4 linked regions of the Homo sapiens genome follow. The protein of the gene in region 1 interacts with the protein of each later gene in a biochemical or structural test. Each region holds a gene or a part of one and is shown in the gene's direction. Other genes may lie near its edges. The genes, in order: FBLN2, ACAN, BCAN and FBN1.

What was found.
Region 2: the proteins of FBLN2 (region 1) and ACAN form a complex in vitro, tested with the Homo sapiens proteins (one study listed by BioGRID).
Region 3: the proteins of FBLN2 (region 1) and BCAN form a complex in vitro, tested with the Homo sapiens proteins (one study listed by BioGRID).
Region 4: the proteins of FBLN2 (region 1) and FBN1 form a complex in vitro, tested with the Homo sapiens proteins (one study listed by BioGRID).

The regions. Positions count from the first base shown.
Region 1 is NC_000003.12:13,544,946-13,552,148, forward strand, and holds the start of FBLN2 (fibulin-2 isoform a precursor), read left to right. Parts: upstream 1-4,179; 5' UTR 4,180-4,263; intron 4,264-7,203. UniProt on the Homo sapiens protein: Its binding to fibronectin and some other ligands is calcium dependent. May act as an adapter that mediates the interaction between FBN1 and ELN.
Region 2 is NC_000015.10:88,799,586-88,806,444, forward strand, and holds the start of ACAN (aggrecan core protein isoform 3 precursor), read left to right. Parts: upstream 1-3,850; 5' UTR 3,851-4,224; intron 4,225-6,859. UniProt on the Homo sapiens protein: This proteoglycan is a major component of extracellular matrix of cartilagenous tissues. A major function of this protein is to resist compression in cartilage. It binds avidly to hyaluronic acid via an N-terminal globular region.
Region 3 is NC_000001.11:156,638,169-156,645,116, forward strand, and holds the start of BCAN (brevican core protein isoform 1 precursor), read left to right. Parts: upstream 1-3,948; 5' UTR 3,949-4,107; intron 4,108-4,214; exon of another isoform or gene 4,215-6,948. UniProt on the Homo sapiens protein: May play a role in the terminally differentiating and the adult nervous system during postnatal development. Could stabilize interactions between hyaluronan (HA) and brain proteoglycans.
Region 4 is NC_000015.10:48,467,676-48,474,709, reverse strand, and holds part of FBN1 (fibrillin-1 isoform a preproprotein), read left to right. Parts: intron 1-59; coding exon 60-182; intron 183-332; coding exon 333-455; intron 456-2,033; coding exon 2,034-2,159; intron 2,160-3,953; coding exon 3,954-4,076; intron 4,077-6,175; coding exon 6,176-6,298; intron 6,299-6,607; coding exon 6,608-6,772; intron 6,773-7,034.

The DNA.
Region 1 (7,203 bases):
CTCACCTGGTAATACAAAGTGGCTGTATCATCTTTTCCTTTAAGGCCATGAGCCAGAAATTGTCCACATTACTCTGCCCCAATTCAACAGCACGACATGTTTGTGGTCCCACCTGGCTGCCAGGGAGGGTGGGAGTGAAATCTTCAGCCAGAAAGCCATCTAAAATTTCTATAGTTATGTTTCTTACATGAATGGTGGGGGCCGATGAGGGTTTCTGCCACAGGGTAGGAAGGATGTGGGTAGGTGGAACAGCATTCACAGTGGGATGGACAGGCAGAGAGGTGGGGAAGTTCCTGGTGTAAGAGAAGAAATCAGCTTTTCATTGGGTGAGGAGTAGGGCTCTGGGATGTAAGGACGGGGTGTAGGTGGGTGAAAGGCTGGAGATGCAGTGGGGATCCAGACCAGAGAGAGCCTGAACTCGGCTCCCAGGAGTGACTGTGTCCGGCTCCCAGGAGTGACTGTGTGCCCACATGTCCATGCTCTGCTCATGCTACCTGCCAGCAGCTGCCCTCGGGCCTGGGCCTGGGGTGTATAGACTGGTGTGCAGTCCACTCTTGGGAGGAGGGAAGACGGAAAGAGACTTGTGCAGGCTTTGGGGGTCAGGGCCATTTAAGCAGGGACTTCCGGGCACTGGCATATGATCTGGAAAGGAGTAGGGGGTCATCAGGGACTCCTGGCGGGCACATCTCATTGTTCTCTTAGACTCTTCACTCTGGGGAGGGACAAAGCTGGAAGAGGAAGGCTAGAGGGAGGTACCCCAAGTGGTGTTTTTCAAATCTGGCAGCACATCTTACAACCTACTGGGGATTACAAAAAAAAAAAAAGTACTGATGCCCAACTCCACCCTCTGGAGACTGGGATTTAATTGTTCTGGAGTAGAGTCTAGACAGTGGTATTTCCAAAACAACAACAACAACAAAAAAAAAAAAACAAAAAAGAGAAATTCCCCAGGTGATTCAGATGCACTGCCAGGTCTGAGAAGCCTTGTTCTAAAGCCTGGGAGCGGGTGTGGTGTCCTGGGTCTTCGTTGGGCAGCAGGATGGCAGGTGGGGCTGTCCCCTGGGGGAGGTGGGCCTATGTCTAGATATCTTTCCTATCGTGTGGAATTCTTCCCCTCGAGGGTCTTGGGGGGCCTGGACACTGACTTTCCTAGTATCTCTTGCAACTGGGGACAGATGGGAGACCCACACTGCCCCCACTGTGGCTGCAGCTGCTGTCAAATGGGAGGTGGGAGAGATGACTAAGCAGGCTCAGGGCCGAACCCACTGCTGGGGAAGGAGAGGCACTGTGACCCTTGGAGGGAGCTGGGGAGAAGTCCTGGCGGGGAGTCCGGGGCCCACCATTCAAGGAGTGGGCAGCCCTCACGCTGTCTGCACCCAGGTGGGCAGCGAGATTTTGGGCCCTGTCACTGGGCCTTTCTCCCCGAAGCTTGGTTTCCAGGCACACTGTGATCACAAATTTCTTTTCTCATCCAAACAGCTCAAGTTAATGTTGTTTGTGATTAACAACAACAAACATTTAATGGAGGGCTTATGATATACCAGACACTGCTGTAAGCATCTTAACTTCAAAACAATCCTATAAGGCAGGAACTTCTTTATAGGCTAGGACACTGAGGCCAGAGGGTTGAAGCCACCTGCTGAAGGTCATACAGGGAGGATGTGGATTTAAATCAAAGCCATTGGGTCCCAGAACCCATGCTCCAACGTAGGCAGCCTCCCCAAGGCTACCCAGTGAGGATGCAGACCCAGGAAGCTCAGCAAGGCTTCTCTTCCCAATCCAGGCTGCACAGGTGGGACAAGTGAGCCTCATGCCTGCTGGCCCTGGCGCCTCAGTGCCCAGGGAGCTGGTGAGATTGTCACTGATGTAAATAACTTCGCTGCCCACTGTGATCATTCTGTCTAGGCCTTATCAGCCTGACTTCCTCCAACCATTTCTCAGCCAGGCCCTGGGCCCCAAATTCCTGGTGGGTGATGCGTGCTCTGTCTGCGATAACAGTCTTGGAAGGGCTCTGAAGGGACAGCCGCTTTGGCCGCATCTCCGGCTCAGATAACAGGACGGGAGAAGTGTCTCCACTTTATCTTGTGGAAGGCGGGCCAGGCCTTGGGCTCCCTGGGCTGCAGAGTGAGCTGCATCTGGCTCAGTGCCTCTCCTCCCAGGCCTGGGGAAGGGAGCCTCATTAGCAGCTGCCCAGGGTCTCTATCACCCCAGGCCACTGCCCCTCCTTCCCCCACAGGAGGAAGGATTCAATCTGTCATTTACTCATCAGATATTTACTGAGCACTCCCTTGGGTCAAGTCCCATCCAAAGTACAGATAATCCCTGACTTACGATGGTTCGATTTAGGATTTTTTGAATTTAGGATGTTGAGAAAGTGGTACACACCCAGGAGAAACCCTACTTGGAATCCCCAGGCAATCATTCTGTTTTTCACTTTCTGTGCAGTATTCAATGAGTTACATGAGATATTCAATGCTTCATTATAAAATAGGCTTTGTATTAGATGATTTTGCCCACCCGTAGGCTAGTAATGGAAGTGTTCTGAGCACATTTAAGGTAGGCTTGGCTGAGCTATGATGTTCTGTAGGTTAGGTGGATGAAATGCATTTTCAACTTACTATATTTTCGATTTACGATGGGTTTATGGGGACATGATCCCATTATAATCGAGGAGCATCTGTACTTTCGGTTTGGCTCATTTCGGTTCATTTGATCTTTCCAATAACATTATAAGATAGGCTTTGATGTCGTTATGTTCATTTTACAGTTGAGGAAATAAAGCCCAGAGAGGTGAAGTAACTTGCCCAAGGTCACACAGCTGGTGTGTGGTGACTTTCTTAATGACCAGGTGATCCTACCTATAGTCATTTATAAATGAATAAGAGAAATCAGCCAGTGACAAGTACTGTAATAACAGTGCGGCCGAGTCCCAGGGTGGAGAGTGGTAGTTGCTACCTCTGCTGGGGTCTCAGGGAGGGCTTCTCTGGGGGTGGTGGGATTTCAGCTGCATCTTAATGCAGGGATGAGTCAGCCACGGTGGATCTGGGGAAGAGCATCCCAGGCAGAGGGAACAGCAATGGCAAAGGCCCTGAGGGAACAGCAAGCACAGAGCTCCAATGGGGAAACGGGCCCAGAGGGAAGGCACCTGCCTGGGGTTAGACACAAGTTGGGGCAGGCCAGGCACAGGCTGCCAGCTCAGGCTTTGGCCCCTCCATCCGCTCCTGGCTTCTCTGTGGGTGGCCCCATCTAAGCCAATGGGCCCTTCCTGGCTCCACCTCCTCTCTGCTGTGCGGCCCTGGGCAGGCAGCTGCCCTGCCCTGTGCCTTTGCTCTTGGCTGCCTCACCCCTGTCCTGGGCTGCAGGGAGACCCCTGGGGGTGGGGGCAGGCACACTTTGGGCCCATGGCTGCTGCTCAGATGTGAGGTGGTGACCACCAGGCCATACGTCTCTGGACAGGGATGGGAGAGACTCAGAGAGACACAGAGACCAAGAGATAAAGTCAGAGGGAGATGCAGAGACCAAGAGGGACAAACCAAGGGAGACAGAGAGATGACATTAGATCAGAGATGGAGACCCCGAAAGAGACCCAGAAAGGGATCGGTGTGGGCTGGGGGAAGAGACACCCCGGGGGTCACACAGTGGTCACAGGCATCAGAGCTGGGCTGAGGAAAAGGACAAACTGAACCTGTTCCAAAGCTGGGGGCTCAGTACCGTCTGCCCAGGCACATGCAGCAGCAGTGGGGCTGCAGGCAGGCCCCCAGGGTAGGAAGCAAGGCGGGTGGGAGGCAGGGCCTGGCCTCTGGGCAGTTTTGTAGCCGGGCCCCTCAGGCCCTCACAATGTGCCCAAGGCTGCTGGGCCCATCTTCCAGGGGTGATCACTGAGGCTCAGGCTGGCTGAGGTGGCCGGACCCCAACCCCTGGCCCTGCCCTGTGGGCAGCAGTGCCAGGTCTGGCACTCAGAGGTTAGGCCGGGCGCAGGGAGGGTGCGGGCTCCGCAGCGAGCGCGCCGGGCGGCCTCTAGGAGCCGGGTCAGCGAGTCTGGGCTCTGAGCGAGCGGCGCCGGCCCGGCCCCCTCTCCGGCGGGCGGCCGAGACCCCGCCCCGGAGGCGGAGGCGGAGTCAGGGGAGGGGGCCGGGGGCCGGCTGGTCCCGCCTCTCGCGCCTCCGCCCCGCCCCGCGCGCACACAGCCAGGGGCCGCCCGGGCTCTCGACGCGCCGACGGCCGGGCGGACGGACGGACGGACGCCGAGCGCAGTGCCCCGCGGTGAGTGCACGCGGCCCCTCCCGCCCGGACTCATCCCCGTCGGTCCGCGCCTCGCAGCTCAGGACTCGGGGGCGCTCGGACGCACCGACGGCTCGGCGGACCCTCGGACGCGCCTCGCGGGCTGCCCGCGCCTCCACCCGCGCCGCCGGTCCGACCGGGTCTCGCTCTCCCGGTCCCAGCGCGGGGACGGCCCGCGAGCGCCGCGACCCAGTGTACAGATGCGGGCACAGAGGCCGGCGCGGGGTGGGGGCCAGGGGTCCGCGGGCGGGTTCCCCCACCCCAGGTCCGCAGCTTCCTCCGCTCTGGGTTTCACTTCTCCCCCCTGGGCCGGCTCCCACCAGTCATCCCCTCTGGTCCCACTGCCCACCCCCACCCCGACCGCAGGACCTTGCCGCCCCTCCAGTCCAGAGGGCCGGGTCAACCCCCTCGGGGAAAGAAGACTAGAGTCCCTGGTCTAACACTACCCCCTCCATCACCCCCAAGTCACACTCACCGCCACACACGCACTCACACAAGCAGAAGTTTCTGCACGCTCTGCATTGGCGCGCCCACCCTGCCTGTCACCACATCCTCCCTCTCCCAGCCCCATGCTCACCCCGCCAGCTCCCCCAGGCCAGAATCTCTCACACTCATCTCACGTCCCCTTAGCACACAATGCTCCACACACACATGCCTTGCACATTGGCACCCCTCCGAGGCATGCCTCTAGCAGACAGTTGTGTCTCTGATAAACACATGTGCCCTTACTGCCCTCTGACACGCACACACGTCCGCCACACAGGGGTAGCTATCACATGCATATCTCCATCATATGTATCACACATGTGTCTCTCACATGCGTGTGCTCCTCAAATACCTGGAATCACAAACACTGGGAGTGCCACACACTGTGAGTCTCACATACGAGTCACAGACCCCCACGACTTCACAGTCCCAGCCCCCCTGGCACTCCATGGGCAGTCCTCCCCTGTCCTAGGGGGTGGGGAGCCGATTTTGGAGGAGGGAGGTGGTTCCTCCTGACAGAGGCTGCTTACCATGGGACCTGGGTGGCTGTGGGGAGCATGGGGGTGGCTCAGCCTCAGGCTGGGCCTGACTCCTCACCTCCGTGCATCCTCTCTCCCTTCCCCTGCTCCAGTCTCCGAAATAGGGGTGCCCTCCCTCCCTTTTTTGCTGCCACAAGGAGTTGCCCATATCAGCTTTGCAGTGATCACTTGGGCCAGTCCCAAGCAGGCCTGAGCCAGCAGGCGTCCCCTGACAGGCCAAAAAGAGAAAAAGGGAAGTCAAACAGGATGGTTTGGGTGCTTGTGTCTACCCTGATGCCCCTGAGATGCTGGTCCGGGCCCTCCCAGAGGGAGCCCTGATGAATTGGGTGGCAGCTGAGAAGTGTTCCCTCAGCCTGGCATGGATTGGGAGCTGGTGTGTGTTTGTGGCTGATAGGGGCTCTGGGCCTTAACTTCCCCATATGCCAAATGGGGTGAAGACTCCCCAGCAGGAGGAAGAGAGGGAGGGGGAGCTACTCCCCTGGGGTGCACCCTTGACTTCCCGCCCTCCCCTTCTGCAGCTGAGCTGTGTGATGGGGGTGAGCAGGGGATGAAGTCAAAGAATCTTATTCTGGAGGCACAAACCTGCCAGCCCCGGCTGTGGCTGGCCCTGCATGTTTTGTTTGGCTCTCACCATGTTATTATTATTTTAAAAAATTAATTAGCTGCCTGCATTTACAAATTGGCAGTTTTCACGTAAAAGTCCGGATTTCCGTCTTCTCTTGAAAAGTCACAAGGTCTGGTAGTTCAGGATCTGCATCTCCTGGCTGGTGCTGCCCACCCCCAACCCAGGGGATGGGGCAGGGGCGCTGTTTGGTCCCCGTCCCCACCTGGCCCTCTCATGCCTTCTCAGCTCCTGCCTGGCCTGCGTGGCCTTTGTGCGGCTGTGACTGCTGCATGCATTGGGCTGATTTTGCTCCATTGCCCGCCTCAAGCATAGGCCCAGGCTGGTCCTCCATGCATGGCTGGGGAAGCCCTGGGCGGGCCTCCTACCCTTCGAGGCCTTAGTCGTTGAAGCAATGAGTGGTGCCCAGGGCCCTGGGCCACAGGGCATCTTTGTGATGGTGGCAGACACTTCCTGCTAGGCTGTGGGGGACGGTGGTATGGGGACCCCGTGAAGCAAGAGCTCATGCCAGAGAGCATTCTCCGAGGCAGGCTTTATTCATCACTTTTCTTCCCAGATCCCGACATCCCTCCTGCAGGGTGGAACTCTTGCACCTATTTAAGAGACGGGGAAGGGGAGGTAGAGAAAGGGCCTCCCAGCAGGCAAGGGGGAGAGCTGGGGTTCAGCCCAGGATCTTTTCCCTCCAAAGCAAAGCTCTTTGCCCCTCTTACTGAGCCACTAGTGGGAGGACTTGGTCTCCTTGGCCGTGGGGGGAGTGCCCTGAGCCCATCCACACCTCACACGCAATAGGTGCTTCGTAAATGCTTGGGGCATGCTGATGGTAAGTGAAACTGGGTTCTCTGCAGCAAATTCGGGCCTAAGGTGAAGATTGCACAGCCACTTGACCTCCATCTCTTGACCTCGTGATCCGCCCGCCTCAGTCTCCCAAAGTGCTGGGATTACAGGTGTGAGCCACCGTGCCCGGCCCCTCCTTTTTTTTTTTTTTTTTAAAGACAGGATCTCGTCCTGTCTCTCAGGCTGGAGTGCAGTGGTGTGATCACAGCTCACTGCAGCCTCAAACTCCTGGGCTCAAGTGATCCTCCAGCCTCAGCCTCCCAAGTAGTTGGGACTACAGACGCACACCAGCCAGCTAATTTTCTATTTTTTGTAGAGATGAGGTCTCACTTTGTTACTCAGGCTGATCTTGAACTCTTGGCCTCAAGTGATCCTCACTCACAGCAGGTGCAGGTGATTGGGTGTGATGAGGAGCTGCTGGTGGATTCTGGTTTGGGGAGG
Region 2 (6,859 bases), on another chromosome or scaffold:
GCCAGCAGCCAGCACCAATTCACCAATCACGTGAGCGACCCACCTTGGACATGGATCCTCAAGCCCCAGTCAAGCTTTCAGCTAACTGCAGCTGTAACTGACATCTGACTACAACTTCAAGAGCTAGTCCAGGCCAGAACTGCCTGGCGAAGTTTCTCCCAAATTCCCGATCCATAGAAACCATGAGAGATATTAAATAACTATTGTTTTAAGACACTCAGTTTTGAGGTGATTTGTTACACAGCCATTATAACTGGAATATCGGATTATGTCGTTCATTCCAGGGGGGCTGTCTCTAGTGCTCTGCTCTAGAACTCAGCCCTAATCTCCGTCCCAGGCAATATTTTTATGAGCAGCCTGAATGAAAACATAGAAGTGGCACACTAGTTAGCTTTGTAGAATGTCTGCTGCTAAGAGGAATGGCAAACACACAGAATAATAGAGTCAGAATCCAAGATGATCTGAAGTAGTAAACTGAATTAGTTAGTGTAATGTTTAAAAGAAGCAAAAATGAAGCCCCACACTTGGATTGGAAAAACCCATTGTACCAGGATAAGCCAAAGGAGATGCTAGGTGGCAGAAGCACTGTGAAAAGGAAGTCTGAGCTGGCTGCAGGCTCCAAATGAGTCATGATGAGGCTGTCATAAAAGCACATAAATGTTGGCTGCATTACCAGAAGCACAGGACCCAGGTTATTGAGGTGAGCTCTCCTCTGGACCCAATCCAAAAGGGAGAAGGGAGAGACTTGAGATCACTGATTCCAAACAGAAAGGTTTATCACGTGGCAGGAGGTCCTGGGACAGGTTAGGGTTGGGGGGATGGAAATGGGCCTGTCTTGTTCACTGCTGAATCCACAGTATTGGGCATGAGCTTCTGTGAAAGCTGAAAGCTGCCTAAATACAAGAACCACGTGAAAAAAATGGATGTGGCCTCAGAAGGGAGTCAAACTCATGGCCACATCCAAGCAGAGTCTGATGTCCTACTTGAGGGAAACATCATGGACAGGACTGACATACTCTATGGAGGGGTGTCCTTAAAGTTCTCCAAGAGCTCTTCCCAGCTCTGAGATTCTCTTATTCTGTGATTTGTGATTGAATGAGTAGAACCTGCTGAATGATGTCAGCACAGTGCTTCTCAAACTTCAGCAGGCATATACAACACGGGAGGGATCTTGTTAAAATGCAGATTGTGAGTCAGTAGGTCTGGGGAACCTGGCATTCTGCATTTTGAATAAGCTTCCAGGTGACACTGCCAGTCTATAGAACATACTCTGAGCAGCAAGAGGTTAGAAATTGCCAGTTTACAGCAGACTGCATCGGGCAGCCTGGAAAAGGCATTAGGCAACTGTAAAGTATTCTAGCAGAAGAGGAGATGACCAGCTTCAGAAATATTACACTGGAACAGAGCTCCTGAGTTGGACAGGAAGAGCCTGTGTATGCCACCAAGGGCCTTCTGACACGCATGTCCTTTGACTCTCTGAATACTGTCTTTAAAGTGTCCAAATGCGTTGCCATTATCCTGGGTTTTTTGTATCCTTTAGGGCTAGGGAGTGTGAATTCATACCAGCCTGTACTCCAATCCCATTCACTACCTTGATGGCCTCTGAGTCTTGGTTTCTTAGTGTGTAAATGGGAATGGCATCCATCTGAGAGGCTGCTGTACCAAGCAGCATCTGACACATAATAGGTGCCCAATATATGTTTCTTAGACTCATTACAAAACCAGATGATCAATAAACATTTGTTCCCTTCAATACAAAGATAAATCGCCTAATTAATATTTGCCCTTGACTTGTTCTTCATTAACCCCACCTGCCCTAGGATGAATGTTGACATGAACCCATTTTACAAATGAGAGCAATTTGTTCTCCCACAAGGCATCAGGTAAACACAGGCATGAGAATCCATGACCTCGTTGGAATTTCAGGGACTGTTTTTTTCCCAGAGGGTCATTTCTCCCTGTTCCAGGCATTGAGGCCAGTAACTATTAAGATTTCATCTCTTTTTTTTTTTTTGAGACGGAGTCTTGCTCTGTCGCCCAGCCTGGAGTGCAGTGGCGCCGTCTCAGCTCACTGCAAGCTCCGCCTCCCGGGTTCACGCCATTCTCCTGCCTCAGCCTCCTGAGTAGCTGGGACTACAGGCGCCCGCCGCCACGCCCGGCTAATTTTTTTGTATTTTTAGTAGAGATGGGGTTTCACCGTGTTAGCCAGGATGGTCTCCATCTCCTGACCTCGTGATCCGCCCGCCTCGGCCTCCCAAAGTGCTGGGATTACAGGCGTGAGCCACTGCGCCCGGCCTCATCTCATTTCTTTATCTGTGAGAGAAGCCACTATCACCCCCTAAGGGGCTTCGGTCACCAGCATTTTGTCTGTGTCCTAAATGCTTCAAGACTTACAGACCTGACTCAATACGCTCAGGTAGAAAAAGGGTGAAATCAAGAATGGCCAACCACTGGAACACTTTAGCCATTGCTCTGAGAGGTGGGTGGATAGAGTGGGCACTATGCTCCCTCCGACGGGGCTTCACTGCCCTGGACAGGGGAGAGACAGGCGGCTCACAGAGCATGTGCTGGGCCAGGGCCAGTCCCGCCCCCAGGCAGAGATGGCCAGTAAAATAACCACATAATTCCAGTGGAGTCGCCCTGGGGAAACCGAGGCACTTCAGTTCCTTTTCATCAAGGAACTGATTAAAGTGTGGTCTATTATCTCTGTAGTGGGGAGTCCCGAAAGATTCCACTTCTTCCTCTTCTTGCCCAATGAGAGGGTCAGGAAGCTTCCACCACCATCCTGACTGTGGCCACCACATCCTGGTGTGAAGCACCACCAGCTTCCTCCACAAGAACTCTGAAGGTCACCAGCCAGCTTGAGTCCTCCGAAGGTGCTGTGGCTCAACCAGCAGCCTGTGTAGCAGAGAGCACAAGACCTGGGACTCGAACTCAGTCCCACCTTCAAGAGGGATCTCCACCACTTTCTGAGCCTCAGTTTTCACATCTTTGGTTAGGGGCAGGTGGGAAGTTGCCATATTTACCTTGTTGGGCTCTTTGGAAAAATTAAATGAAATGTTAATGTATGTTACACAACGGGCTCATAGGAGGGATTCAAAAGCTGCTAGTTCTTTTTCTCCTTTTCCTGAAAACGGTATTAAAGAGTACTGTAGAGACACTGGAGAATTCCTGCTTCATATGAGATGTCCTTGGTCTCTCCCGGGGAATTTGAAGACCCAGAGACTCGCAGCTCCCCGTGAGCCTCCCCGCTGACGCCTTACCTCCCCCTCTCCACCATCCCCTGCCATCCCGGTGTACGCCACCCCCAAAAAAACTTTCAGCCAGCTCCTCGGTGAGGGTCGTTCCAAATCGTGGCCGACAGTAGCGGGCTGCACCCTCCTTAGATCGCGTCGTGGCCAGCCTCAGCTGCAGAACCCCGCCGGGCGCCCGGGAGCCCTGTCCCGCCGCGGCGGCCTCAGAGTCCGGGCACTTGGGGATTCTCTGAGGGTGCAGCCCTCCTGGGCCCCTCCGACTGCGGAGCTGCCGACCGCAATGCAGATGCGGGCCCTCCAGCCCTTCTCGCGCCGCCTTCCTCCCGCCAGCCCCGGAGCTGCCGGGTCCGCGCCGCCCCGGGGAGCGCTCCTCTCCCGCCCTGAGCGCAGGCCGGCTTCCCCATCGGCGCGCCGGTCCGGAGCCAGGGTCCAGCGCGCTCCAGACGCCTCTGCCTTCCCCTCCCCCTGTCGGCCGCCCCTCGGTCCCTGGGGGTGGGGTTTCCCTTTGCGCTCGCCCCCTCCCGCCCCCACCCCTCACGGGCCCTCCCCTCCCCCGCCCGTCCCTATGTATGTGTCACAGCGCGCCATGCCCGCCCGCCCGCCCACCTACCTCCCCGCCGCTCCAGAGGGGGCTCGCAGAGCTGAGGACGCGCGCAGCGCTGCTCAAGGTCTCTCTCTCTCAGCACCCTCGCCGGCCGGCGTCTGACGCGGGTGCCAGGGTCTCCGGGCACCTTTCAGTGTCCATTCCCTCAGCCAGCCAGGACTCCGCAACCCAGCAGTTGCCGCTGCGGCCACAGCCCGAGGGGACCTGCGGACAGGACGCCGGCAGGAGGAGGGGTGCGCAGCGCCCGCGCAGAGCGTCTCCCTCGCTACGCAGCGAGACCCGGGCCTCCCGGCCCCAGGAGCCCCCAGCTGCCTCGCCAGGTGTGTGGGACTGAAGTTCTTGGAGAAGGGAGTCCAACTCTTCAAGGTAACTGTCTCCTTCCCTCCAGAGCGAGGCTCTCCCAGGGCGCCCGGCGAGCCAGGAACGGGACTGAGACTGCACGCCCCGGGGCTGGGGGCTGCACTGCCTTGGTCTCCGCCCTAGAGCTATGTGTGCCGGGGGCGCAGCACATCCACCGGCTGCGTCCGCGGTGGAGTTGAGCAAACTTTTTGGCTGTTGCAGACTCAGTGAATGGGGCAAAGGAACACGTGAGGAGGGGCACTTGTCTCCTAGTCCGCCAGGATGAAGGAACAAGGGAGCCTTTTCTCCAAACACCTAGGTGATTTTAAATCCTAGGGTCTGGAAAGACCCATGGTTGACAGAGTAGCAGCTTCAGAGTCAAGGGAATGTGGGTTCAAATCCCCGAGGTGCTACTTTTGAGCTGGAAGGTGTGCTTCACCTTCCTGAGCCTTGGCCTGCCGTCTGTCAGCTGAGAGGGAAAAGGCCTTCGCGGGGTCTGGAAGAATAAATGAAATCATATGGACACTATGTCAGGGACACAGCGGGTCCTAAGCCGAGGCTAGATAGTCCATCCTTGGCCACTTGGCTTACTCCAGGGACCAGAGTGCCTGAAGAGTCTGCCCAGGGGAGAGTGGCAGAACCTGGGACAGAGCTACTGAACTGCCAGCAGGGGAGAGGAGAGCAGTGCCCTGAACACACGGGTGTCCAACCAAGAAGGGGCATTTCTCAAGGAAGAAAGGGGAGGGGAGTTGAGGACACACGACCACGAGCGGTTTTTCCGTCTGTGGGTTCCTCTTCAAACGAAGCCAATGCTGGTGGAGCAGGAGCCCTTTCCAACCCTGGGGCTGGGTTGGAGGCTGTCAGTATGTCAACTGAACCACACTCTGGGCAGAGCAAGCTGCGGGGGTGGGGGCTTGTCTCTGGTTGTGAGACAGGATCCAACCCAAACTTTTCCATCATTATCCTCCTTTCAGTCATGAGCTGGGTTCTGACAGGATCCTACTAGGGTTTCACCATGAAGAAGCTGGAGTTCCAGCATGTTGACTGATGTGTAAATTCTGGTTCTGTGGGGCTGGCTGCCAGGAGGAAAATACAAAGCTGAATTGGGTTAGCACGGTGTTTTGGGGTCCTGGGTGCTGCAGTGGGTGGGTGTCTGACAGTTTAGAGGGGACTCTGGACCTTGAAAATTCACCCACCTCGTCTGAAGAGGAGGGCAAGTGGACCCAGAAAGGTGCAATGAATTTCTGAAGGTTGAACTGTGACTTAGGGTCAAGGGCAGAACTAGAATCCAGGTTTTCTGAGGCCATAGTCGGTCCCTCGTCCTGATTTAAGAGTCCAGAATTCTTGGGTTCTAATCCTTATCTCTCTTTCTTGTCCTGGGTTGCCATGGACAAGGAGCAATCAGGTTGCTCATGCACCCTGGGCAAGGTGGGTTTGGAGGCACTATGAAGATACGGTTTAGGAGTGTTGGCTTGTCAATCACAGGCTCCAGGGAGAAACTGCAGGAAATGGAAAGGCAATGGGGAAGAAAACCCTGAAGCTCGTTGGGGGAGGAAGCATTGAGCGGCAGTGGGGAGGAGAGGTTCTAACCTGAAAGAAAGATTGCAGAATAGTAGATCTCCCCAGTATAAAAAGTTTCAGAAGAAGGAATTGTCCAAAGGAAGAAGATATCTCTTGGAGAGATGCTGGAATTCCACAGGTTACCTTGAGCTGTGTTTAATTTAGATATTCTTACGTGTAGTTTCTAGTGCTGTGCCTGGTATTTTCATTCATTCTCCAATATCTGCTGAGCGCCACCTAGGTGCCAGGCTCTGTGCTCAATGCTGGCCCACAGCGGGTACTCAATAAACAGCAGATATGAGATGACCCAAGCAAAGGGCTTAGCGTAGTGCCTGGCACTGGGCAAGTACTCAGTAACTGTTTCATATTATTAATATTACTATTATCATTCTTAATTCTAGTAGTAAATGAATGTTTTTCTTTTTCTAGAATATTCACTGACAATCATACTTAAAAGGGAATATTTTGTTTAATGTTCGGAAGCCCTCCACACACCCAGGCACACCTCTTGCCCCTGTTCCCCATCTCTCTCACACCCACACGCCCAATCCCAGGCAGCCACTCACCCCTGCATGCCAAGGCAGAGCGTTCTCCTCCTCTTATGCCCCCTCCCCAATTAGAGAGGGAGCTCCAAGAGAGAGCTCACCTCCTGAGACAGTCGGCAAGAGCCAGGAGGGTGGACAGCCTGCATGCAAGGAAGACTGGGATTCAAATTCCAGCTCAGCCACTCGCTGGCTACATGGCTTTGATAAGGGTACTGAGCCTCCCAGAGGCTTCATTTCCTCTTCTCTAAAAAGGGGAGAAAATCCTCCGATAAGAGATTTTTGTGAAGATTAAAAGACATAAAGTGGGTGCCTTGTCCAGCTCTCAGCAAGCACCACAAACTTTAATTCCTCTCCTCTAACAGCTCCTAAGCCCCCTTGTGGGTCACAAACCCCAAGTTATGGATAGCAAAAATTTCAAATGTTTTCTCTTGATAAGAGACTGTGTGTCCTAACTTTTGGTGTGAATTTTTTTTTTTTTTTTAAGATGGGAGTCTTGCTCTGTTATCCAGGCTAGAGTGCAGTGGCCCAATGTTGGCTCACTGCAACCTCCGCCTCCC
Region 3 (6,948 bases), on another chromosome or scaffold:
CAGCCTGTAGTCCCCATTGCTGTCTCCCTACTGCTCCACATCCCCTCCCACTCCACACTCCCTGTCTGCGGCAGCAAGAGCCCTCAGAGCCACACTCAGCCATTTCTGCCCCCCACCCCCTCCTGCCTGGGCTGGGGTCCCGTGCTTCCTGGCCTCTTTCAGAAGCTATCAAAGCCCCCATTCTCTGAACACAGCTGTGCCAGCATTCAGAGCCACATCCCCCTCTTCAGCCCTACTCCCACATGCCTATGGCACAAGACCCAGATGCCCGTGCAGGGCCTCGGAGAGGAACTCAGCTGCCTAGGCCCCCACTCCAAGTCTGGGAGAAAGGGGGCAGGTGTTCAAGGAGGTTGGCAGGACAGGCTCTCCCAGTGGCCACTGTGGAATAGAATCCAGTGAGGAAGGCCCAAGGCTAACACTGGAGATGGGGGGAACTCAGGATGCAGGAGCGTGGAGGGCAGATTCTCTTTTCTCAACTTGGGTCATGGCCTCAGCTTTGGCATGGATGGGGGATGTTGGGGGTCCGGTGGAGGCAGGAGATTGATTGTTCTCATCCAGAGAGGCTGGAAAATTCCCCAGGGCCCAGGAGACTGGGAGGCAGCCAGCTGGGCTGCACGTGGGAGAGGGAGGAGAGCTGCCCACGCTCTCCCTCTCTCTCTTTCTTCTCTCCACCTCCCTCTTTCTCCCTCCCCTGATAGACATCTGGGGAGCCCTGGCAAGAACCTTGGCCTGGGAGTCAGGAGACTTGATTTTTGGTCATGGTTCAGCCAGTTCCATGCTGTGTGACTCTGGACAGTTGCTTGACCTCTTTGGGTCTCAGTTTCCGTGTTCAGAAGATATTCAAGGTTACTGGAGGAATTTTTCTCCTGTTACTGAGACAGGAGGTTCTACCTGAAATCTGACTTTCATTCTTCCCGCTGCCATTGATTCTGTTTGCTTTCAGCCAATCCCCAGGGATCTCTTTCTGAGATCTGGAGGGGCTAGGCAGAGCCCCTCCTCTGGAGGGGGTTCTTGCCTCTGGAGGAGGCTGATTCTTGCCTCCTCTCAGAAAGTAAATAGAAACGGGGGAAGACACATATGGCCAAGTGTCCGTAATTGTAAAGAGAGTCTCTGATCAGCAATTGCTGGTTCAAACTGCAGGTTAGCCTTCAGTATAAATTTTCTCAGCTGGAAATGTTGGAAAAGCCTCAGAGTGCCCATTTCCTCCCCTGAGAAATCCTCTGGAAAGGTCTCTACTCCCAAATAATGAGCTCTCCAGGGCAGTGGTCCTCTGACCTCCTGGCCAGGAGATCTGGGCAGATTAGGTTGCTGTGTGTGTGCGCAAGTGTGTGTGACTGGGAAAGGAAAAGAACTAGATTTTGCTAAGCCCGAGTCATGGGCCAGGGGTTTCCCTTGCCTAGAACAGGTACAGTAGATATTGCCCAGTGCAGTAGATATTATTCAGCCCACTGTTCAGAAGAGAGAGTTTCAGAGGAGGAACGGGGCCCTTTCTGAGGTTTGCCACTGCAAATGACAAAACAGGAATTTGACCTCAGTGCCTGTGATGCCAGAGTCCTCGTCTGCGCAACAGCAGCTGTCTGTTCTCTCACCACGTCTGGTCTCCCACCAGGGATCTGCTTTTTGGAACAGACTGTCTGGTACCAGCCCTTGTCCAGACCCAGGTGCTGCTGGCCTCAGTCAAGGGTGGATTCCCCCAGGGCACCGAAGTGAGTGCCAATCCTTCTGGTCATGAGGAGAGGTGGTAAGGAAGGTCACTTTCTCTGCCTTCTCTGGTCACAGCCAGGTTTCCCTGAGGCAAGAACTGTGGTTACATCTGAGCCACCACTGGGATTAAATTTCAGCCGCTTGGTTGCCTGGCTCAGCCTGGCTGGCCTCAAGCCCTGTAGAGCCAGTGTGGAGGTAGGCTGGACACATGCATCCATGCTGAGACTGTCCTGAGGAAGGGGGGTTTTCTTGCAGCTCTGAAATGCAACTTCTAAGGGGAGCAAAAAGACATCCTAAGGCTGCCCAGATCTGTCCCCGAAGGCCTTCTCAGATCCGCTCTTTCTACTAGAAGAATTGGAACTGCATTTCCAGGCCTCGAGCAGTTCCTGGTCCACAGCTGGAATTCAATTCAACTCATATTGGTCTAACGAAGTAAATAGATCGAGGTCCCTTCCTCCCCAGACTGTCCCAGGCACCTTCCTCTGTCCCCTTCAGTCTTGCATCCTTTCTGGGGCATTTTTCTTTTCTTTTCTTTTCTTTTCTTTTTTTTTTTTTTTTTTTTGAGAGGGAGCCTCACTCTATCACCCAGGATATAATGCAGTGGCACGATCTCAGCTCACTGCAACCTCCACTTCCCAGGTTCAAGCAATCCTCCCTGCCTCAGCCTCCCAAGTAGCTGGGATTACAGGTGTCCACCACCACACCGGCTAATTTTTGTATTTTTTTAGTAGAGATGGGGTTTCGCTATGTTCACTAGGCTGGTCTTGAACTCCCGACTTCAGGTGATCCGCCCACCTTGGCCTTCCAATGCTGGGATTATAGGCATGAGACACCGCACCTGGCTGGCATTTTTCTTGGTAAGGAAATTTACCATCTACCCCTCCCTACCCCCCAGGTCTTCTTTTCCTGTCCCTACAGTAGATGGGTCTCTGGGAAGGGGCCAGAATCTTCCCTTTAGACCCTCAAAGATTTGGAGTGGGTTTTTATGTGAGGTTCTCAAAGCCCTTTGGAACCAAGTCCATGGCACTGGGAGTGAAAGCCAGGCAGTGGTGAGTGGGGGCGTTGGCACATTCAGTGGGGAGCAGTCCAGAGTTCCCAAGAGGGACCTAGGGTGCAGTCTAGATGGAAGGCTGGGGATCTGCCTTGAGGTTGCATTTGCATTGAATGCACCTTACTTTACTTGGGGTATTTTGAAGATGCTGTGGAGATTATGAGGATCAAAGCCCTCCAAAGCTATCCTTGGTGCCAATATTGGTATCCAGGGGAGGGAATCTAGGCATCTGGCTGTCCTGCCCACTGTCCGTGCCAGGGGCTTTGCCTACAGTCCCAGGAGGGAGGAGGGAAAAGCAAAGAGAGCCTGGGAAAGGAGAGGGAAGCAGAGGCCCTGGAGCTGGGGGAAAGGAGGGTCATTGGTATTCTGGGCGCTGAGGAGTTCCTGGCTGGGCAGCACTCAAGGCCCACCCCCTGGCATCAGGCTGCACATTCAGCATCGACAGCCCTGGCCAGTAGGCCTTCTGGGCTCCCAGCAACGCCTGCATTTTGCACATTGGTTTGCATGACTGGTAATGTCCCTTCACAGGGCCACCCTCACCCCACCCCCACCCCAGGTCTAGAGATTTCCTGAATTGCTTTGCTTAACCCATGATTCTGCTGTCTAACCTCCATCCTTCCAGCTGCAAAGTCAGCTCCTCCTCTGTGCAGGGAGTGGGAGCACCACAGGAGCCAATGCCCAATCATAGCTGCCTCCAGGGAGGTAGCTACGGTCCTTTGCACCCCATTCTGCCTCCAGAAAAGAGTTTTCCATTTTTTTTATTAGAAAGGGTGTCTCTTTTCAGGAGCAAAGCCCCCATTCTCCCTTCATCCACTTCTTACAGTCTAATTGACTCCCTCCTCCTTCTTCTTTGAACAACGAGAAGACTCTCCAGTTGTCCAACTTCCACCCCTCCAGCTGCAACATCGTCATCCTTTAGCTCAGCGAACGCTGGGCGAACGCTCCCTCCCCGCCCCTCCTGCCCCTCCTCCCTACTCCAAGCCCTCGGCTTCTCATCCGCTGAACGATGTCCTACTTCGCTCGTCCTTGCTCTCGCCGCTGCTGCCGGAGCCGAAGCAGAGAAGGCAGCGGGTCCCGTGACCGTCCCGAGAGCCCCGCGCTCCCGACCAGGGGGCGGGGGCGGCCCCGGGGAGGGCGGGGCAGGGGCGGGGGGAAGAAAGGGGGTTTTGTGCTGCGCCGGGAGGGCCGGCGCCCTCTTCCGAATGTCCTGCGGCCCCAGCCTCTCCTCACGCTCGCGCAGTCTCCGCCGCAGTCTCAGCTGCAGCTGCAGGACTGAGCCGTGCACCCGGAGGAGACCCCCGGAGGAGGCGACAAACTTCGCAGTGCCGCGACCCAACCCCAGCCCTGGGTAGGTGAGTGCCTCCGCAGCCCCGCCGCCCGCCGTGGGGTCGGGGACAGGGAGAAGGGAGTGCCTGCCTGGTCTGCGCCCCCCGCCTGTCAGCCCTTGCCTCGAGGCTCTGGGGCACCCAACTCGTCGACTCCTGACACCGCAGCGGGGTAGGCTGCTGGACAGCCCCGAGCGCCTGCAGCTGCTGCTGCCATCTCTGATCTACATGCTTCCAGCTCTGCCAGTGGCAGCCCCCCTGCTGCTCGCAGTCTGATCAGCAACCCCTCGGGTCCTCGCATCTTCCCTGCTGCGCGCTCCTGTCCCAGCGCGGCCGCCGAGATTTCCGACCTTGTCCCAGGCAGGGCGGTAGCGTTCCGGATCAGTCCTTGCCTCCGTGCCCCCACGCACAGGCAGCTCCAGGAGCAGCGGCCAGCAACCCTTCTGGGGACACCTTACTGTAGTCCGGCAGGACAGCCGATCAGAGCCGCTCTAGGGGGTGGTCGGAGTGCCCATTTCGGCTGGAATCCCAACTCGGCTCCTTGCTCTGTGACCTTGGGGTAGTTAGTTGACTTCTCTGAACCTCGGGTTCCTCATCGGTGTAATGAGCAAAACATAAACAATCTTTTTCTCACAGTTGAGGTTATCCACAGGAAGCATTTAGGAGAACTGGCTCAGGTAGACATCAGTAACTATTAGCTGGAATTCGGTTACCACTATTGCATTCCTTCCTAGCACTGCCAGGGGCCTGGGAATTCCCTCTCCCAGGTATTTCCATATCCTGTCAGGTATTCCCCCACCTATTGGAATAGCTCTGCCTACATGGTTCTAATAGGACCAAGAGATTGGCGTCAAGTCCAAGGGGCACCATTATTATCTGCATTACTTAGATTGCAGATGATGACAGTAAGATCAGGGAACAGTGTTACCCTTAGACCCACCCACAGTATTACCAGTGCCTATGTTGCTATGGCTAACTTTGCTATTTATAACAGCATCATCCACATTTCAGATTCTATACGAGAGGGATCTGCAACTGCTCGGCTGGTGTCATTGCTAATAGTATTATTAGTTTTGCTTCCAATAAAAAGGACTATTTATATGATGATTGCAATTACTTCTACAGGCCCTAAGGCCCTGCTTATATTGTGTAGGCTCATGTTGCTCCTCATGAAGCCGTTAAGGGGGTAGCAGAGAGCTTCCCTCCTGCTATAGCCAAAGCTCTGGCTTCTTGTGCCTCCCTGCTGACCCTGCTGAGTGCTGGAGCTCAGTTCCTATGGGACAGACCTTGGCTGCCGGCTGATGGGCATTCAGCATGGAGGTGGTGGGTGTTGTTAGATGTGTGTACACACGTGCATGCCTACACACACACACACACACACACACACAGAGAGAGAGAGAGAGAGAGAGAGAGAGAGAGACCTGGTCTTAACTCTCTGGGTTGGGTCTATGAAGACTGTGAGGGAGATGGACATCCCGGGTCAGACAGAAATGATGTGACAAGAGGAAAGTTTCCTGAACAGCTCAAGAAATTCAAAACAAGGGCAGAGATACAGACGCTGGAGCTGAAACAGAGAGGGGGATGTTGTGGCGTCAAGGGAACGGACCGCATGACTGCTGAGCTCTCAGGGTTAGAGTTGGAGAGGTGTGGCCTGCTCTGGAGGAAGAGAAGAGGAAGTGGAGATGAGTGGTGTGTGGGATAGAGAAGGCCACAGAACCCTGGACCCCTGGGTTCTGAGGCTGGTACCGGATGTGGGGAAGTCTGAGTTTCCTCAGGGCTCCTAGCTGCAATTGGGAGGCTGAGGCCCGAGACTGGAGAGACAGAGCTCTCTCAGAACTGCACGGGGCTACCCTCTTGGCCTCACTGGTCAGTGACTCCCATTTTTGGGGTCAAGGGTAGGTTGCCCTCCATGTTCCAGAGCAGTTAGGTCCTCATTGGCCTTAGGCCCTCTTCCCTCACTCTCCCACTGTCAGACAGAGGTGAAAGGGTGGTCCAGGGTGTTGGCCCCAAAATGACTCCAACTATATGGGTCTCTGGGCTGCCCGTCAGAGAGATGGGAGCCAGGTCTGTGAGCAGCTCCAGCTCCAGCCCAGAGAGAAGGGAGGGAGGGCACCAGAAGGGGGCCAGGCCCAGGCCCTGGCACAGCTCAGATGCATGGCAAACAGTCTTCCCAGCACCCGGTGGGCACTGGCTGCTCCTGCCCAATGGTCCCCACTCCAGCCCCAGAACAGTCCTCCCAAGCACCCCAATGCCTGGAGCTGGTCTCCGCACCTCTAATCTGGCCCCATCAAGAACCTCCTCCCTCTGAAAGGTCAGAGAGAGGCCCTAAGCATCTGGTTGTGCCACTCCTCTCCCAACTCTGACCCTAGGGAATGATATCCAGACACAGTGGGGGAGATGGGGGTTATGATGGCAGGGAGGTGGGAGGATCTGGGAAAAGTAGGAAATTTCCCATCATCTCAGGCTTAGGAAAGTGCAGGGACAGGTATGAAGGCAGATGCTGAGAGGGCAGGGAAGATGGGGGATAAACAGTGGGCCTGGAATGGGAGTGCACAGCCAGTGGAATAAACCTGATCTCTAGGAAGTCCTGCCTGTAGTCTAACCTTCAATTCTCTTGCTGCATCATTGGCCTATTCCATGGCATACCTGGATCTCCATGCTCTTCTAAGTTTAGCCCAACCCTTAAAGATGATGTAGCTCTGAGTCTTCTCTCCTGGGAGCACATTGCCCTCGTGCCTGACTTGGCTTTACTAGGGATCCAGGGTCAGCCCTATCCTTCTCTGAGCCTCAGTCTCCATTTCTCAATGTCACAACACATCCTTTTTATGAGAGTGTAAGTGCTTCGAGATCTTTGGAGGAATATTCTGG
Region 4 (7,034 bases), on another chromosome or scaffold:
TTAAAAACCAAAAGACATTTGTGCTGAGCCTTTTTCTAAATCACTGCTCATTTTTCCAGACATCAATGAATGTGAAATTGGAGCACACAACTGTGGCAAACATGCTGTATGTACCAATACAGCAGGAAGCTTCAAATGTAGCTGCAGTCCCGGGTGGATTGGAGATGGCATTAAGTGCACTGGTGAGTAGGAAAGTAACAGAGGTTGCTTATCAAGGACTGCATAGATTACACATATGAAAATATTAATTATGTAAAGTTATTTTAATTTGTGTATTATTGGTTTTAAATACCACCCTTTCTGTTAATAATGATATAACCTTTTTCTATAAGATCTGGACGAATGTTCCAATGGAACCCATATGTGCAGCCAGCATGCAGACTGCAAGAATACCATGGGATCTTACCGCTGTCTGTGCAAGGAAGGATACACAGGTGATGGCTTCACTTGTACAGGTATGTTCACGCTGGAAACAACTGTGTCAACACTAGTCAGAGAAGCCAGGCATTCCACATTTCTCAGGCTAGCAATTCTTTTTTGAAGACTGGGTCAGTTAATAGAAAAGATTCATCATTTGGCACTAGAGCTCTGTGGGAAAAAAAAAATTGGAACCAGGTCAATTAGGGAGACCTCAAAAGCTTCTCGATAGGTAGATACGTAGGTAGATAGATAGATAGATAGATATTTAGGTGCCATTATCACATCATTTACAGTGATCTGTGCTCTAACATAAAATGATACCAAAAAAGTCATACCATTCTCCACCTCAAGTCAGCTAGGCCTTATAATAGTTACAATTGGCATATATATCATTATATGACTGTATATAATGATGTCATTAGTTTAAACAAATCATACTTCCTTTTATATGCCTAGCCTTTATTTATTATTATTTTTTTTTTGCCTATTTCTCACCAATGACTTCCTTTCTGTACCAACACAAGGATAAGCTTGCTGTAGGGAACTATGTAAGGAGAAGGGATTAGATGTTCTAGATTAGAAGAACAGTATGTATTTCTCTCCAACAGGCCATCATCATCATCATTATCGTCATCATCAACATTCCATATTGGTATAAGTAAAAATTTCAAACCTGCTATGGAATTCATTCACTTCCAGTTTTGCAATAATATATTAATGAAATTTTCTTTTTGGCTCTAATTAATAGCCATAGAATTAACATAAACTTCTATACACATGTAAACATACATGATTAGACTTGTCATTACATAAATTATACATATACTTACATGTGCATATATTTACAGACAGCACTTTTTATATCAGAGCTCTGGAGTTAAATAAAATAATAAGATCCATTAGCCATTAGGTCGCATAGCTGCTCCTATAACTTAAAACATTGATTTATCCTGAGCACTTTGTTCATAAAAAGTCATTTAAGCACAATAGAGGCTAAGGCTCATTAAGTGATTTACCTGGAATTTTTTTTTATTCCCTGAAAGTTTTATCTCAGATGAAATCATTTTTGCCTAACTTATTGATGTTTTGTCATCAAAAACCTCCCATCATTTTGAGAACATATTCAAATTCCATGTATTAGGCATGTGTGGTTTATGTGTTTGATATTTAAATGCCTGTGATTATTAAGAAAACTAGGTAGAGATTAAGCAGATGGAATTTTTCTTCTCCCTATGGTTGCCATTCTTTTGCACTTTTGGTGCCCATCTAAGCTAAGCCTGAAACTTGAGAAATAGACACAAACATGATGTGTCATTTCCTGTCATGGGTGTGCCCTCCATGCGGATGACCCTTCTTGAACAGGCCTTAGTTTGCATGATTCCTTCGGCTTATTCATTTTATATCATTCAGGGTAAATTATCATTCAGGATTCTGAATCAGCCACATGTAAATTTCATATTCAGTGTTAGCCTACCAAAGAGAAAAATAAATGACTTTAAATGTGTCAAATTGAAGTTATGCCAAAACATTGCTGCACTGGAAAGTTGATAGACCTGAGGAATTAGAAAGCCCCTAACCGAGGAAGAGTAACGTGTGTTTCTTTCTGGCTGTAGACCTTGATGAGTGCTCTGAGAACCTGAATCTCTGTGGCAATGGCCAGTGCCTCAATGCACCAGGAGGATACCGCTGTGAATGCGACATGGGCTTCGTGCCCAGTGCTGACGGGAAAGCCTGTGAAGGTAACTGATGGGGAAGCCACTGGGAGCCTTGCTGGGCTTGATGAGATTAGGTTATTTAAACATTCCTGATGCTTTTTTTTTTTTTTTTTTTTAAACTGAGGTGTGTTTTAGCTTCATTTCTAAGCTGGTCAGTTCAGTTTGTAGAGGGATTAGGTTTCCAGCTGACCATTTCTCTTGCTGCACAGAAAACCTCAGCTGACTGGCCACAAGCTGTACATCCAGCCTTGGCCGCATGGTCTGCAAGGGTGTATCCATTGGTCAATGAGGGTAACCAAGTGTGGTTAAATCAGTGCAACCCATTTATCCCTACGGAGGGGGATGCAACCTGTTAATCCCTACTGAGGGAGAAAAGAGCTGAAAGTGCAAGTTCCCTGATAATGTCCTGTTGTGGGATTATCACTAAATATGGAAACACAGGTTTTAATCTCCACTGTATTTGGTTTGTAGAAATAAAAGCAGAGCAAATAGTCTTGTCCATACGTAGAATGGTATGTCTCACATTTGCTCTAAATATCTAACATATATGAACATGGAACAGTTTTGCAAATCTGTTCAATAGGGGACCCTTGGGATACTGCCATATGGCATGGTATCGCTCAGCTTTAGGCTCTGTCATTCTGATAAGTGTTGGTCAGACACGAAGAGTCCTGGGAACCTGTTAGCTAAGGCTGGATCCCATTAGGGAACACAAGATTCTTCCCTTTACCCACATTTGTCAAATTTAAGCACATTCTCCTTCATTGAAAAGAAGATTTCAGTAGAAATAAACAAATGATAACGATTGTCAGTAGAAGTTTAAACAAGACCCTGATTAATGTATTAGTTAATAGTTGTTCCTTGTTAACAAGACGTGAACTCAAAATCAGTCATTAGCTATGACATGTATACTAATTCCCTCATGTATTTTTATGTGAATACTTTTCTTTGTTATGGAACCGTTGGGTGTTCTTTATACAGTTTATATTAAATATGCAGAGTTTGATATAAAACTCCTTGGAGTCAAGAAACCAGATTATGCTCTTGATCATGTGCCTAATACCTTGTTTACTTTTGTTACTCCAAATATCCAAGGAAAACAGGTACTGTGCCACCTCTGGTGACACAAATAGTCACAGTGAAAGTTTTGCTTCTCTTATTGCTATAAGAGAAGGTTTTGTTTGTTTGTTTGTTCTTAATATAAATCATGGCTGGTGGAGTGGTCATGGCTATTTAAAGCTAGTCTCAAGCCTGAAAATGTGACTGTGTGTCAACTGCACACGAAGAATGTTAACAGGAGGCAGAGACAGAGGCCTGGAAGAAGCGTGTGCGGTTTTCCAATCTCCGTCAACAAAGGCAAACACATGCCATAGGACTAGGGACACTGGAGATTATGCAACTAATTATGACAGTTCCCTGAAAGACATTGTGGCTTGTGAAATTTTAATTCACAACAAAAACAGTGACTACATAGATAGATTAAAAAAAAAAAACGAATTTAGCGTAAGGTGGCTTGCTTGCCTCTTACTTTACGAAAGTGATGTGGACCTACGTGGAACACTACAAATGAGATATGTATCTATAAAATGCTCAGCCCGCTGCTTGGCATGTAATAGAGACTGAGGAAAAGTAACCTCTCACCTACGAGACTTCACTGTGCATGGCAAATCATCTAAAAGTCTATAGGAGAAGTGCCCAGATTGGTGTTAGATACTCTGCATTTTCTTAGTATTTACATTAGTTGCCTAATTATATTTGGCAGGTTTTTTTTAGAAAAATATAAGTTAAGTTTTTTGCTTTTTTCTCCCTCCCCCCAAGATATTGATGAGTGCTCCCTTCCGAACATCTGTGTCTTTGGAACTTGCCACAACCTCCCTGGCCTGTTCCGCTGTGAGTGTGAGATAGGCTACGAACTGGACAGAAGCGGCGGGAACTGCACAGGTAAGACCTCCACTGGCATCAAAATCAGCTCCCTGGTGTCCCGGGGGACCCAGCTATTGGAGCCTCCCTGGGACTACACAAGGGCCGTCACAGAAGACAAGAAAAGCAAGGGGGAAGTATTAAGAATCACAGATACCTTTTCTCAGACCTGGAACTGATTGGAGGTGAGGATCCAGAGGAAAGAGTCTAAGACAATTGAAGGAGCACAGTTTGTAGCCTTGAAATTGAGTTTGTGGCTACAAAGGAATGTTCTAGGGGTGCTCTAGTGGTGTAGCTTCCCAGCCATTTCCTTTTCTACTTGGGTACATTTTTGGAGAGTTTCGTTTTGGAGGCCATGCCCCGGGATCATGGGTTTTCTCCTTGTACTTCGTTGTTGCAATACCCACCCCACTCCTTCCTACCCCTGCCCTGCTCGTGGTCACCAGAGTACTGGGTACACAGAGCTCAGCCACCTATCTCTAGTGTATAAATCATTTTCTTGTTGAGCCAAGGACTCTCAGGGAACATTAGAAAAAGCTTAGAAAAACTACAGGCACCCAGCAGACTGACACTCGGTTCTCTTTGGCACTAAGACTTTGAAAGCCATTTGCATTTCCCCTTCCTAATTCACCCCTCTGTTCAAGGATACTGAAGAAACAACTTATGTTCTGTATGAGTTCAAATTTCCGGAAAAAATCTGGTCTTTTCAACCACCTAAACAAACCATGACTCAGGGGCTCTCCAGATCATGACCACCACCACCACCCTGCAAATGCTCTGGATGGAGTATTCCTCTCCAGCCACACATTCTTCCCTTGGTTTTCCTTAAAGCTATTACGAGACCAGGCTGGGTCTCTTGCATGCCTCAGGAAGTCCCCCTCTCCATGGCCTGTACCCTGTCCTGCGTGCCCCAGATCACTATCAACATCATTCTGTCTAATCTCGTTTCTGTTACTCTGGCCCTGTCCGTCCAAATTCACATGCAATTTGAACAAAAAAATCATCTGCAGCGCAACCCGCAGGAGGGTTGCCAGATCCAAGGGGAGGACCAAGGCAAAGGTGTTGTCCCTCTTCTCCAGTCCCTCCTCACAGAAGCCGTTTGTCTATTCTTGAGTATTTCATGAGTGTTCAAAACAGACAAAAGGAATTGTACAGAGTGGAATTTGCCAAAACCCATGTCCTAAATATCTGGAATTCTGTACATATTTTTGGAATAGAAACTGAAAGGGAAATATTCAACTCAGCATGGATGATGGGAGAGACACTCCTTGCCGACCTCAGGGAACACACTAAGCCTCACGCGTGTGTGTCAGGGGAAGCAGCAAGAGTTGCCCTTCTGAGGGTTTCCTGGGACATCTTGCTCTAATTTGATGAAATAACAAGCCACATATACTCAATATATTTTCTTAAAACCTGTGTCTGAATTTTTGGTTGACCGAGGTCACAACAGTGTTTTGCCTTCAGTTACCTTGACTGGAATATTTTTCCTAGTGCCAAAGTTATATATATATATGTAATATATATTATATTTTATATATATATGTAATATATATTATATTTTATATATATATATATTTTTTTTTTTTTGAGACGGAGTCTCGCTCTGTCGCCCAGGCTGGAGTACAGTGGTACCATCTTGGCTCACTGCAAGCTCCGCCTCCCAGGTTCATGCCATTCTCCTGCCTCAGCCTCCCGAGTAGCTGGGACTACAGGCACCCACCACCACGCCTGGCTAATTTTTTGTATTTTTAGTAGAGATGAGGTTTCACTGTGTTAGCCAGGATGGTCTCGATCTCCTGACCTCGTGATCTGCCTGCCTCGGCCTCCCAAAGTGCTGGGATTACAGGCGTGAGCCACCGTGCCCGGCCCAAAGTTATATTTTATCCTGATGACAAATTTGAATGGTAAATGTGTTCTGGGGAAAGACCACCAAAGACTATATCATATTTCCTTCCTGAGGTGTTTTATCTCTGAAGTGGAAGACTGCATTTCTAGATGTAGTTATAACTAGTAGCTTTAAAATTCTTGTTTGGAGCTCTAGATTGGGCCCTGTTCTTTTATGGTGATGTCTGCCTACACTGGCTCAGGTGATAACTCCACTACTCACTGTTCGGTTTTAGATGTGAATGAATGCCTGGATCCAACCACGTGCATCAGTGGGAACTGTGTCAACACTCCAGGCAGCTATATCTGTGACTGCCCACCTGATTTTGAACTGAACCCAACTCGAGTTGGCTGTGTTGGTAAGACCTTAAAAACTTTTCAGAGAAGCAAGCATACTGTGTATTATTTTGAAAACAGCACCAAACATTCCATTCTCAAAGTTTGCAAAATGAATGATACAGAAATTTAAACATTTCCTAACTCTACTTTAGATTCAGATATCTTTTCCATAGGGAAAATTCTCGGTAGTGTATAATGTTCATGGGCACTTTTTAGTTTCTCAGTAAAAGTAAATTACGGTTTTTGAACAGTTCCTGAAGTGGGTTTGAATTTTCAACCCCAGTAGAAAGATTCTGCCTGATGCTTTTGTGTTTGTATATGGTAAATAGATACCCGCTCTGGAAATTGCTATTTGGATATTCGACCTCGAGGAGACAATGGAGATACAGCCTGCAGCAATGAAATTGGAGTTGGTGTTTCCAAAGCTTCCTGCTGCTGTTCTCTGGGTAAAGCCTGGGGTACTCCTTGTGAGATGTGTCCTGCTGTGAACACATGTAAGTGGACATCCTCCTATTTATTATTATTTCAACTCCAGCCAGTTCTCCTTTCTAGATCAGAAGACAAACCTTTTCTACTCTTAGATCAGAGAAGAAAGATCAGTCCTCTCAGCCCTGTAGAGGGGACCTTATTCCCAATTCGAGAGTCAGAAAATATTCCTGGTTGGCTCACACTAAAAGATCAGGTAGGGCAGGTAACATCTCACTTCTGTGTAAGTGAAAAGCAGATAGCATTACTTTAAAGATTTTCCAGACTAGG